2 separate regions of the Homo sapiens genome follow, and region 1 is linked to region 2. The links come from fine-mapping of genetic effects on gene expression. A gene starts in region 2. The other region holds a variant in brackets. All regions are shown on one strand. Distances are between the middles of the regions.

What was found. PIP is the estimated chance that this variant, and not a neighbour inherited with it, causes the effect.
Region 1: its variant is fine-mapped to the expression of ZNF252P-AS1 in whole blood (TOPMed, PIP above 0.99).

Annotation. Positions count from the first base shown.
Region 1 is chr8:145,043,170-145,046,078 of GRCh38, reverse strand. No RefSeq gene overlaps it. Among named protein-coding and RNA genes, the nearest start is that of C8orf33, 7.8 kb to the left of the region's middle. The variant G/C (reference allele first, on the strand shown) is at 1,561.
Region 2 is chr8:145,001,543-145,004,451 of GRCh38, reverse strand. ZNF252P-AS1 (ZNF252P antisense RNA 1) reads right to left here and starts at 1,641. Exons shown (of 1, transcript NR_026974.1): 1 at 1-1,641. It also overlaps the pseudogene ZNF252P. RefSeq lists enhancers at 799-928, 672-1,248.

The DNA.
Region 1 (2,909 bases), 42 kb before region 2:
TGCAGTAAGCTGAGATTGCACCATTGTACTCCAGCCTGGGCAACAAGAGCAAAACTCCATCTCCAAAAAGAAGAAAAGAAAACCATAACTAAGAAAGTAATCAAATGAAATATGTAATACATGTAGTTATGTGGCAAACAGATTCAGGAGTATCTAAAAGCAGCCTTCCAAACACCAAGAGGTCAATAACAGTCCATGATCACCCCCAGGCAATACAGACACTTGGGGATTCTGGATTTCTTTTCATGTCTCTTAAATAGTGGTCCCTGGTACAGCTAGGTAGTAGATGAAGGCAGTTTAACTAAGCTCCATTCAGGGCCCAGTGTTTGTAGATGGTCAATGATGACACTTCATCAGGGTTATGGATGCTGTGTCTCAGCCCCATGGGACTGCTTAGGGAAAGAACACACAGGAGGAAGCTAAGGCACAGAACTGACCCCGTCACTGAGCCTAGTGCCTGCTGAGTGCTCACGCACACTGACAGTAAAAATGCCAGTATGGCCCAGTTTTAACGGAACCCACACACTTTCATGAGCTTTACCTCCTGAAGCCATAACAGGTTCTCACAGTGAAGATCTAAGAAAAAAAATCCCTTCATGCTTCCAGCAGTGGGAGGGGGAAATTAGCCATTCTGAAATATGCCCAGAGCGTATGGTTCTTCATAAAGCCCAACCTCAGGAGAAACTATTTTACCAGAGCCTAACCTGCTGAGGTTTTACCAGAGACAAACTGACCTGGGGAAAGGGAAATACCCAACTCCAACCTGCTCTAGCCTTTCTGTCTCATCTAAGGGGGATAAACCAATACAAAACTCAGAAGCACTTGTGAGGGTCACAATTTCACTGAAAGACTGAGACATACTCATAAGATTATGTGATGTTTCCCCTCCCTTCATATCTTACCCCAGCACTAGAGATCCTGAATAGTTAGGGGAGAATATAACTGAAAGAACTGTGTGTCTCAAACTTCAAGAAGTCTCTAGGATAACCCAAAGGCAACAAGGGAGACCAAAACAAGGACGCTGGAGACATTTTAGCCTCTGATACTGACAGCTGCAGCAAACAGAAAACGCAGCCTAACCGCGGGCCAGATAAAAACCTCACACTAAAGGCCTAACTATCAGTTCCTTTTAACCAGTGCATCGTATCTCACTTTCAATAAAATGTTACCACACGTTCTAGACACACAAAAAATATAGAATTTGAAAAGAAAAAGCAAGCATAAGAACCAAACTGAGCTTATGGCAGAGATGTTGGAAATATCAGACCTTGAATTTTTAAGACTATGATTAATATGCAAAGGGTTTTAATGGAAAGTGAGAACAATATGCAAGAACAGATAGGTAATATAAGCAGAGAAATGGAAACACTAAGAAAGAATCAAAAGAAAATGCTAGAAATCAAAAACATCATGACAGAAATAAAGACTGCCACCTGTAATCCCAGCACTTTGGGAAACCAAGGTGGGTGGATCACTTGAGGTCAGGAGTTTGAGACCAGTCTGGCCAAAATGGTGAAACACCATCTCTACTAAAAATTCAAAAATTAGCCGGGCATGGTG[G/C]CACACACCTGTAGTCCCAGCTACTCGGGAGTCTGAGGTAGGAGAATCATTTGAACCCAGGAGGCAGAGGTTACAGTGAGCCAGCCTGGGCAACAGAACAAGACTCCATCTCAAAACAACAACAACAAAAGGACTGGACACAACTGAAGAAAGAATCAATGATCCTGAAGACATGTCAGTAGAAACTTTCAAAATAGAAATGCTAAGAGAAAAAAAGAATAAAAAGGATGAAACAGAACATCCAAGAACTGTGGGACAACTGCAAAAGGTGTAACATATGCATATTGGGAATACCAGAAGAAGAATGAAGGAAAGGAACAGAAGAAATATTTGAGCCAATTGTAATAAAATTTTGCAAAATTAATAACATGCACCAAACCACAGTTCCAGAAAGTACAGACAACACCAGCAAGATAAATACCAAAATTCTATACACAAACATACCATATTCAAACTGCAGAAAATGAAGAACAAAAAAAATCTTCAAAGAAGCCGGAGGGCCAGACACGGTTGCTCATGCCCGCAATCCCAGTGCTTTGGGATGCCAAGGCGGGTGGATCACCTGAGGTCAGGAGTTCCAGACCAGCCTGACCAACATGGTGAAAACCCGTCTCTACTAAAAATACAAAAATTAGCCGGGTGTCGTGATGCATGCCTGTATTCCCAGCTACTTGGGAGGCCTGAGGCAGGAGAATTGCTTGAGCCTGGGAGGCAGAGGTTGCAGTGACCCGAGACTGCACCATTGCACTCCAGCCTGGCCAACAAGAGAAAAACTCCATTCAAAAAAAAAGGCAAGAAAGAAAAAAACTAAGCAAGGGTAAGCATTATATCAGTTTTATCTTCCAAAAAATGTTAAAAGTAACACCAGCCCCGATTCTGTATAAAGTGGCATTATCTTTCAAAAATGAAGGAGAAATAAAAACTCTCTCAGACAAAAATTGAGGGAATTTATTGCCCGTAGATCTAACCTTGCAAGAACTATTAAAATAACTTCTTCAGAGAGGGGGAAATGATAAATCAGAAACTAGTATCTACATAAAGAAAGGAAGAGCATTAGAGGCAAAATCAATAAAGGTAAATAAAATATTTTAGTTTTCTTATTCTCAATTATCTAATGGATAACAGTTTGTTTGAATTAATAATAGCAATGTATTTGGTGATTGTAGTGAAATGAATGATAGCAAAGTGGAGTTTTTTGTTTGTTGTTTGAGACAGAGTCCCACTCTGTTGCCCAGGCTGGAGAGCAGTGGCACGATCATGACTCACTGCAATCTCCACCTCCCAGGCTCAAGTGATCCTCCTGCCTCAGCCTCCTGAGTAGCTGGGACTACAGGCATGTGCCAATATAC
Region 2 (2,909 bases):
ACTTGGGGCGGCCATCTGTGTTAGCTAACTGCCTTTATCCAAAGTTAAAATAAACCTCATGTCTCTATGACAAGCAGGTAATTGCAACTTGGAGCCAGCCATCTGCTAAACTCCCACAGAGACAAGGAGGGAAGCTATCTTCCTTGGCCTTTTTATTTCAAAGAAATCACTCCAAGGTCCTTAAGAAAGGTCCTTAAGAAAGAAATTCCTGGTTTATAAAACTGGCAAGAGGCTTATGCAGCTTTTTAAAAAATTTACATACATTTCAAGAGGGCAAAGAAAGATTTTCCTATTACAAAGTTTTCTAAAAGAAATGGTCTTAGTAAAAGGAAAGGAGTGTCTCTTCCCTTGGGCACCATGAAAAATCCAACTTTTAAAAAAATATTTAGGGCCGGGCGTGGTGGCTGACACCTGTAATCCCAGCACTTTGGAAGGCTGAGACGGGTGGATCACTTGCGCTCAGGAGTTCAAGACCAGCCTGGGAAACATGGCAAAACACCACCTCTACAAAAAAATACAAAAACTAGCTGGGCGTGGTGGTGGGCGCCTGTGGTCCCAGCTACTCCGGAGGCTGAGGTGGGAGGATCGCTTGAGCCCAGGAGTCGGGCCGTAATTGCGCCACTGCACTCTGGCCTGGGAGACGGAGAGAGACCCTGTCCCGCCCCCACCTTCAACCACCCCCCAAAAAATTAAAGATTTAGTGTGGTGGCGCGTTGCTTGTAGTCCCAGTTACTCGGGAGGCTGAGGCAGGAGGATCGCTTGAGCCCGGGAGGTCGAGGTTGCAGCCTGGGCGACAGAGCAAAACCCCATCTCTAAAAAATAAAATACCCTATGGCTCTTCCCACAACTGCTCATTCTCTGACATCTTAATGCTCCCACTGTCCCACTGAAGACGGGCTGCTTTCCTTTCCATTCTCGTAAGTCCTCCCTCCGGGCCCGTGCTCCTCACCTGCCCGGGTCGCACCTGGCCTCTCCCCTCACTCCGCTTCACCCCCGCCCGCCGCCCGTTCCGCAAGCGCGTCTCAGCACCGAGTGGTTGGTTCTCGAACTCCAGCTCCACCGCAATAGGTCTGAAACCTCTCTGCACCTCGGCTTCCTCATTTAAGCGATGGCAGCAGCCTTCTAGAGGGGGCGATGAGGTCAAAAGACTACAGGTGGGAAGTGCTAGGTGCACAGCGGGCGCGAGCTGGATTCTGAGCTTGATCACTACTTGGAGGTGGGGGAAAAGTCGCCCGAGAGAGGGGGACAGTGCACCGCGAGACGTCCTAGGTGAGGAAGGGCCGGGTCCAGAGCACGGAGAACAACCCCCGGTTGAGGAGCGTCCGCAGGAACGCTCGGTGTCGGGGTCCCTTCCTTCGCAGCCGCACGCCGCCGGCGGCACCTCTGCACCTGCGCCCTCTCGCCCGCAGACTCCGCCAAGGGCTGGAAGGGACGTAACCGGGAAGGAGCAGGACTGCCGGAGCATTGAGTACTATCAGCCGCCTAGAGCGGACCCACGAAACCTGGAATTCAATTGGTTGGTGAGCTGAAGGGCAGGGCGGAAGTTCAGATTAGGCATTTCCGGCCCAGGGGGCTTGGCTCCCCGCGGCACGGGATTTAGCGTTCGCGCTCCTTCCCTTCCCGTGGTCGAGCCGAGTGAGTCCCGAGCTAGGGCGCCTGGTGCGGAGGTGCCGGAGTGGCGCTGGGGCGGGCAGGGGCGGTGCCGTGGTTCTGAGAGGCCGCAGGTCGGGCCCCGCGGCCTCAGTGACCCGTAGAGGACGCGTCGAGGGCGGCTGCGGGGTGCTGAGCGCCCGCTTTGTGTTGGCCGAGGCGCGGGCAGGGCGAGGGTGGCGTGAGGCACGAGCGGAGGCAGCGGGGCGTGCAGGTCTACGGGCTGTCATCCACGCTCCCGAGCAACACTGAGGCAGGGAAGCCAGATGGGTAAAAAGATCTCGCAGAGGAAGGGAGTTTGGGCAATGTCAGGGGATGAGCTGAATTGTGCTTTTTTTTTTTCAGAAGAGAGAAAAGTGCATTTCATTTAGCAGGAATGTATTGATTGAAAGGGTAAAGCTGTGAGAGCTGTGGTGTGAAGGAGCTTCTGTTTTGGGGAAGGAAAGGAATAGGCAGGAGGTGATATCTCACAGATGCGCTGGAACAAGCTCAACACTCATTCATTTAGTAGGCACTCGGTAAATGCTGACTTACTGATTAGGACAATTGAGACTTAGTATTGTTTGCGGTTTGCTAATACTGTGCTGAGCATTTTATACATATTCTCATTTAACGCAATATAGTCACTTAAGGAGTAGTGTCAATCTCATTTTATGGTCTGTGGAAAAACTCAAGTCACTTACCTGAGACCTCTGCATGAGTAAGTGGTGGATCCAAGGTTAGAACTCAGTCCTATTCGAGTCCAGAGCCCATGCGCCTAATAGCAGCATTACATGCCTGCCACATGCGTTTAGGAGTGAAGGCAGAGTACACTAAGAGGTACCGCTTGTGATTCACAAAGGGCATAAGCAGCAGGGGCCAGTCAAAGGCAAGCCCTGTCTGAGGACTGGAAGATTCCCTCTGGCCAAGGTGTGCCTCAGCTGGAGACTGTGAAGACATCAATGAGCTTATGTTCAGCTGCCAGTCAGAAAGTCTGTCCAACGAAGGCTTAAATGATGATGAGACAGGGTTTGTTCCAGAGTTTGTTGTGAAATGCCAGGGCTCTAGAACGTGTCTCCAACGTTCTCTTGGCTTTCCTTTGTGGTCACTCCATTCCCCTTATTTCCTTTCAGATGCCTCTTGGCAAACTTCCCTTAACATCTTGGTGACGAGAACTGGGCCTTGCGGTCACCTAGAGCGGAAGGAAAAGGGCGCATTTCCTCCTGAACTAAACTAAGGAATTTGTTTATGTGTAGAGGGCTGTGGGGAGGTGACTTGTT